2 linked regions of the Homo sapiens genome follow. The protein of the gene in region 2 purifies or fractionates together with the protein of the main gene of each other region. This does not show direct contact. Each region holds a gene or a part of one and is shown on either strand. Other genes may lie near its edges. The genes, in order: LYPLA1 and GUCA1B.

Region 1 (3,821 bases), on a different chromosome or scaffold from region 2:
CTTAATTCTATTCTATGATCCCTCTGAGAATGCCTCTATCAATTATCTTCTCTTTACTGCATCTTCTTCCTCCCTCCTTCCACTCATAGGTCTTTCTCTGATCCCACTGAAGAACAGATTTCCTACTCTTCTTCCTGTTTACCAAAACTTTTTTAAAAGGTCTATACATGTTGCCTCTGCTTCCTCATTTCCCTATCCACTTCATACAATCCTTTGCATTTTGGCTTTATCTACCCAAACATCCAAGGTCACAGGTGGCTTAATATTGGGTACTTTCTTCCTAAACTATTTCTCCTTAATCCTTCTCTGGAACACATTACACATCTCCTTCCCACTCTGAAATTCTCTCCACCCATACTCTCAACACCTAACTCCTTTTCTCATTAGGCTAAACTGTAATGTGTCCCCCAAAGTTCTATCCCTGAGCTTTTTTTCTTATAATGCTTTCTCAAGATAATTCTTCGTTGATCAATTATATTAGTAATTATTTCAAATCTCCATTTCCAGGCTTGAACTTCAGACAAGTATTTCCAATATCCTATTTTGATATTGTGGGGGCACATTGATCTCAATACATTAAACTCAGTATTATCTCCTTCCTTTACTCTAAAACTGTTTCTTGCACCTACTTTTTATGATGGCATCAGAACTAGAAATCTCAGGCCCTTTTGATACTTCCTTGGTTACTACACCCCACATAATTAATCTCTAAATCCTGCTGGATCACCTGTCTCTAGAATGTAGATCAGATCACATCTCACTTCAACCAAAAACACTGACAGCTTCCTGCTGCCTAGAGAGTAAGTCTAGTAAGTCCCTTCTCAGCACAAAGAGTCTCTGTTCCCTATGTCTTCTGTCCTATCATGCCCAGCTTTTCCTAAGACTGAATGGCTTGCTTTTCCTGTCCTATAGTTCTTTCTCTGCACATTTGCTATCCAAATCCCACCGTTTTTCAAAATCTAGCTGTTTCATCATGGTCTCAGTGCCTCCTAAGATAAAATTAATCTCTTCTCAGTTTTTCAGGGCACCTTTTGTTATTTTCCAAGGGCACTTTTTAAAGCTTCTAATACAATGTATATCACATTCTGCTATCCATACAGTTACTTAGACATGCATCTTTCTATTAAATTTTATCTTAAATTTTAATGAAAGGGAATGTTTATTATTCATCTTTGAATTATGTACAATGCTGTGTATAATAGCCAATCAGTAAATATTTGTTGAATTAAGTTGAATACACACTCATCTAATGACTGCTAACTTATGACTCAATATGAATTAACTCATTTAAATCCCCAAGCATTCAAATGTTACTTTTCTTGAAAATATCACATGAAAAAAGTTACAAATATGGCGCTGATCACTGCTTCTAGACACCTACCTGTTGACACGAACTGTGCATCATACCTTCATAGGTTTTAAAGGTCACATTGGCTGGATTCACCAATGTTTTTAGTTTTTCCACCGTAAGAGAACCAAACATCAGGGGAACCAAAGGGTCACAATCCCCGTGGCACTGGAGAATAGAAATATCTCTATTAGCACCACCGATAGGACCCTGCAAAAAGCAAAAGAAGAAATAGTTTTATTTTTGTAAAAGTATAGGACACTATGCCAGGCATTTAAAATTGTACATAAATATGCATATATATAACATATTAGAAGTTACATTTGGCCAAAAAAATAAAATTCCTTCATCCATATACTCACCACATCCCTTTGACTTCTATAGGATGTATGATCACCTTGCCTCATATTATAATATATATCTTCCCAGTGAATGAGTTCCTTGAAGCAGATTATATATACATTTTTTTGTTTCGTTTAGTTTTTTTGAGACGGAGTCTTGCTCTGTTGCCCAGGCTGGAGTGCAGTGGCGTGATCTCAGCTCACTGCAACCTCTGCCTCCCAGGTTCAAGCAATTCTCCTGCCTCAGCCTCCCAAGTAGCTGGGATTACAGGCACGTGCCACCACGCCCAGCTAATTTTTTTGTATTTTTTAGTAGAGACAGGGTTTCACTGTGTTACCCAGGATGGTCTCAATCTCCTGACCTTGTGATCCACCTGCCTTGGCCTCCGAAAGTGCTGGGATTACAGGCGTGAGCCACTGCACCCAGCCAAGCAGATTATATTTTAATCCATCTTTATATTTTCAGCTTTTTTTTGTTTGTTTGGTTGGTTGTTTTAGTATTTTGAGTTGCTGTTTTATTCAGCTATCTTTTTTTTTTTTTTTCCCCCAAAGACAGAGTCTTGCTCTGTTACCCAGGCTGGAGTGAAGTGGCACAATCGTGGCTCACTGCAACTTCCACCTCCTGGGTTCAAGTGATTCTCATGCCTCAGCCTCCTGAGTAGCTGGGATTATAGGTGTGCACCACGACGCCCAGCTAATTTCTGTATTTTTAGTAGCCATGGGGTTTCACCATGTTGGCCAGGCTGGTCTTGAACTCCTGACCTGAGGTAATCCACCCGCCTCAGCCTCCCAAAGTGCTGGGATTACAGGCATGAGCCACCGCACCTGGTCTAAAAATAAGTATGATTTCTATATGTTAAAAAAAGTCCTAATTTTCATATATATCCTAAAATGTATCAAATCCTTCTAATATAAGATTTGTGACAATAAGGTTTCTTTCTAATTCCATTCTATGTACTCCACAATACAGACAGTATAGCGTACAGAAATAAGGCCTAGTAATACATCACAAAAGTCTAAGAAAATTATTTTTAAAAAAGGATGAGTGCTGTAAGTGGAGGACTTGGTGATGGTGATGTGTCAGTGCAGCATTACTGACTGCAGCAAAAACATGGCTGTGGAGGTGGGGATGCTGATGGTGGGGAGGCTGTGCATGTGTGGGGACAGGAGGTAGATAGTAACTCTGTACCTTCTGCTCAGTTTTGCTGTGAATTTAGAACTTCTCCAAAAAATAAAGTTTATTAATAAAAAAAAATAAGATGACTTTATCTCCAACAATATCTACTAGCTACCTTTAGCTCAGTAATCTCATGTTGAGTGCATCAACCAAGTTACCTGTGGAAAGGAAGCCCGAAGTGGAAGCCAGCAACTGAGTGCAGTGACACCTGCCAGTTTCTGCTGTGTGGTAAGGGCAGTATATAAAGATAAAGCTCCTCCCTGAAAAGACAAGCAGGGAAAGTCAATGGAACACACATGCTTGCCCACAGCAATTTAGGGAATATCTTGTTACTAATGATATCCATAAAAAAATCAAACTTGGTGGCTGGTGTCAAATCAAATCAGGCAAATATCGGAAATACAAACACACCCCACCGTGTCCTAAAGGATGCGGTTCTCTACACCAGAGAACATACAGACTTCCTTTCCGACGAGACATAGTTTGTACCATGGGAAACTGCTGCACTTACAACATGCCTTACGAATATTCTGAATTTATATTTTCTCCTTTGCAGAATTTTAGGCATAAAATCCAATCTGCTCTTAAATTGGTATTACTTTTTTTTTTTTTTTTGAGATGGAGTTTCACTCTTGTTGCCCAGGCTGGAGAGTAATGGTGCAATCTTGGCTCACCACAACCTCCGCCTCCTGAGTTCAAGCGATTCTCCTGCCTCAGCCTCCCGAGTAGCTGGGATTACAGGCATGCACCACCACACCCGGCTAATTTTGTATTTTTGGTAGAGACGGGGTTTCTCCATGTTGGTTAGGCTGGTCTCAAACTCCCGACCTCAGGTGATCCACGCGCCTCAGCCTCCCAAAGTGTTGGGATTACAGGTGTGAGCCACCGTGCCTGGCCCTTAAATTGGTATTACTTTCTAAATGAGAATTTAAGATAATAATAACTATTTAGCAGA
Region 2 (3,821 bases):
GGAGGTGGGCTGTGCCCTCAGCAGCATCCACATCTAATGCAGGACAACACCATCGACTTCCTGGAGTACGTGGCAGCTCTGAATCTCGTGCTGAGGGGCACCCTGGAGCACAAGCTGAAGTGGACATTCAAGATCTATGATAAGGATGGCAATGGCTGCATCGACCGCCTGGAGCTACTCAACATTGTGGAGGTTAGTGTCTCTGCCCATGGGCCAGCAGCCTGGGCACTAGAGCACTGCTGGAGCTCTGAAGGTTGGCCACAAGTGGCCAGCGGGGACTGAAGAAGAGGCCTTGAAATCATTCTGAGTGTGTTTCCTGTGTTCTCATTCTGAGTGTGTAATTTCTAGTGGAATTAAGCTAGAAATCAATCAAAAAAAGATTATTAGAAAATCCCCATCTGTTTGGAAATTAGGCAGTAGACTTCCACATACTCTGTGGAACACACACACACACACACACACACACACACACACACACACGACAAGTATCTTAAATTGAAAAATAATGCAAGCATGACATACTACAACTTGTGGAATGCAGCTAAAGCTGAACCTGCAGAAAAATTTATAGATTTAAAATACACATATTAGAAAATAAGACTTAAAATGCATATATTTTGGAAACAGAAGCTGGGTGCAGTGGCTCATTCCTGTAATCCCAGCACTTTGGGAGGCTGAGGTGGGAGGATTGCTTGAGCCCAGGTGTTCAAGAACAACCTGGAAAACAAAGCGAGACCCCATCTCTACAAAAAAATTAAAAATTAGCCAGGCTTGGAGGTACATGCCTGTAGTCCTAGCTACTTGGGAGACTGAGGTGGGAGGATTGTTTGAGCCAGGAGTTGAAGGCTGCAGTAAGCTATGATCATGCCACTGCATTCCAGCTGGGGCAACAAAGTAAGAACCTGTCTCAAAAAAAAGAAAGAAAAGAAAATATATCTTAGGAAATAATTAGAAATTGCATACTATATTAGAAAATAAGACTTTATATATTAGAAAATCAATGATCTAAGAAACCATCTCAGGAAATTAGAAAAAAGGAAGAGTAAATTAAGGCCAGGCACAGGGACTGACACATGTAACCCCAGCACTTTGGGAGGCTGAGGTGAGTGGATCACTTGAGCCCAGGAGTTCAAGACCAGCCTGGGCAACATAGTAAGACCCCATCTCTACAAAAATTACAAAAAAATTAGCTGGGCGTGGTGGTACGCACCTGTGGTCCCAGCTACTCCAAAGGCTGAGGTGGGAGGATTGCCTGAGCCTGGAAGGTCGAGGCTGCGATGAGCTGTGATTGTGCCACTGCACTCCAGCCTGAGCAACAGAGTGAAACCTTGTCTTTAAAAAAAAAAAAAAAAAAAGTAAAATAAACCCTTGGCCGGGCACGGTGGCCCACGCCTGTAATCCCAGCACTTTGGGAGGCCGAGGCAGGAAGATCACGAGGTCAGGAGATCGAGACCATTCTGGCTAATACAGTGAAACCCTGTCTCTACTAAAAATACAAAAAATTAGCCGGGTGGGGTGGCAGGCACCTATAGTCCCAGCTACTCGGAAGGCTGAGGCAGGAGAATTGCTTGAACCTGGGAGGCGGAGCTTGCAGCAAGCCGAGATTGCACCACTGCACTCCAGCCTGGTGACAGAGCAAGACTCCGTCTCAAAAAAATAAAATAAAATAAATCGAAAGATAGTAGAAGAAAGAAAATAAACAGCAGAAATCAATAAAATAGAAAACACAAATGCATGAGAAAAAGTCAAGAAGATCAGAAGTTATTTCTTTTAAAAGACTAACAATCATTCTCTATTAGCAAGAATGATTAAGGAAGAAAAGAAGTGCCTAGTACATCCCAGACTCTGGCGTGTTCCCTGGGTTAGCCAGACCCGCGCTATGAGGCAGGCATCGTTAGCCCTGTTTCACAGAGCAAGAAGCTGCTTCATAGAGATTCTGTAATCGGCCCAAATTAGTCTACCTAGGAAGTGCTGGGGCTGGATTTAACCCCTCAGTCTCCCAAGACACGTCGATGAGGCCTATTTTATGCTGGGCACTGGGCTGAGCAGTGAGGCCATAGAGGTGCATAAGACGCAGCTTCTGTCCTCAGGGAGCGCCAGCCTGGGAGCTAAGGAGAACCATCATATGTGTCCATCTCTTCCGCATTTACATGGTGCTTTCTTTCTTTCTTTTTTTTTTCTGAGACAGAGCCTCGCTTTGTTGCCCAGGCTGGAATTCAGTGGCGCAATCTCGGCCCACTGCAACCTCTATCTCCCAGGTTCAAGCGATTCTCCTGCCTCAGCCTCCTGAGTAGGTGGGATTACAGGCGCCCACCACCTTGCCCAGCTAATTTTTGTATTTTTAGTAGAGACAGGATTTCATCATGTTGGCCAGGCTGGTCTTGAACTCCTGACTTCAAATGATCCACCCGCCTCGGCCTCCCAAAGTGCTGGGGTTACAGGCATGAGCCACAGCGCCCAGACTACATGGTGCTTTCACAAACATAGTCTCATTGGGAGAGGAAACAGGGCAAAGGAGAAACCTGGGTTTTTCCCTCCAGTCCATGAGGAGGGAACATGTGTATCCCCATCATTCTGTTTTACACATATACAGGCACACTTATATAGATACACTGAATTTTCTTCTCTGCATCTCTATTTCTTCCTGTGTAGAATGCAATTTAGACTGTCATGGTGACTTAAACCTCCCTCATTAGAGGTTTTGGATTTGGGCTTTGCAGCTCACAGTGGAAATGCAAATGGTGTTGGGGTCAGGTGGGGTGTGAGGCCGGGAACTCAGCTGGAATTAGGCCAGTGGGATTCTGAGAGCACCGCCTTAGGACAGGTCAGTTTTGATCTGGATCCAGATTATGTGATCCTAAGACGCACAGCCTGGGAAGCCAGCACTGGGGAAGTGGTGCTGGGGGATGTGGGTCACTGGGGTGAAGGTGGAGCTTTCAGGGTCTCCCGTCAATGCAGCTGAGTTTTCTTTGGCAGGGAATTTACCAGCTGAAGAAAGCCTGCCGGCGAGAGCTACAAACTGAGCAAGGCCAGCTGCTCACACCCGAGGAGGTCGTGGACAGGATCTTCCTCCTGGTGGATGAGAATGGAGATGGTAAGAGGGGCAGAGATGGGGAGAGTGCTGTCCACTCTGCATCATCGCCACTTTCTGGCCGCACGTCCTTGGGCAAGGCCCTCCACCTTCCAACCCTGGGGTCCTCATCTGTGAGAAGGCTGTGGAGAAGATGTCATGAACTAACAAAGGGACTCATGAGCACGTGTTTGTAGGAGTGACTAAAAGTCCTACAGGAGTTGCTGATGGAGGCCAGGCACGCAGAATAGAAAGAATAGGAACTTTGGAGTCAGGCAGGGAGTGATATATTGAGCTTCTCGTCCTAGTCTCAATTTCCTCATCTGGAAAATGGGGATAATAATAGTGGTTGAGAGGAATGAATAGGATAATGTGTTTAAGAGCAGGCATAGGGTAGACCTCCATTCAGGCTGCTTGGGCTTTCCTCCCTGTAGCCCAAAGCCCAGCCTCAGGGCTATGTGGGGAGAGAGCTGGCTTGGAATACACACTTGAGCCCTCCAGCTCTCTCAGCTCCACCCAGCATTTCCGTGGTACCATGCGCAAAAGTAAAACTTCAATTCATCAGCAAAGAAAGCCCCTTAAAGGTGGCAGGAGACTCCTGGAGATTCAGACACCTGACAAGCCGCAAGCTTGAGGTCTGAGACTGCAGGATAGTTGGCATAAGACGTGTAGGCGCATCCTGGGAGCGAGGTCTCTCCTCCTGCCCCCAGACCCAGGTCTCCCCTTCTTCTACATGACCACCTCTCCTCCC

Evidence for each region.
Region 1: the proteins of GUCA1B (region 2) and LYPLA1 purify together in Homo sapiens (affinity purification with mass spectrometry; one large-scale study listed by BioGRID and IntAct). This does not show direct contact.

The regions. Positions count from the first base shown.
Region 1 is NC_000008.11:54,049,631-54,053,451, forward strand, and holds part of LYPLA1 (acyl-protein thioesterase 1), read right to left. Parts: intron 3,127-3,821; coding exon 3,025-3,126; intron 1,559-3,024; coding exon 1,382-1,558; intron 1,147-1,381; exon of another isoform or gene 1-1,146. Other genes in the region: LYPLA1-TCEA1 readthrough, read right to left, coding at 1,382-1,558, 3,025-3,126. UniProt on the Homo sapiens protein: Acts as an acyl-protein thioesterase. Hydrolyzes fatty acids from S-acylated cysteine residues in proteins such as trimeric G alpha proteins or HRAS.
Region 2 is NC_000006.12:42,184,953-42,188,773, reverse strand, and holds part of GUCA1B (guanylyl cyclase-activating protein 2), read left to right. Parts: intron 1-42; coding exon 43-192; intron 193-2,976; coding exon 2,977-3,094; intron 3,095-3,821. UniProt on the Homo sapiens protein: Stimulates two retinal guanylyl cyclases (GCs) GUCY2D and GUCY2F when free calcium ions concentration is low, and inhibits GUCY2D and GUCY2F when free calcium ions concentration is elevated.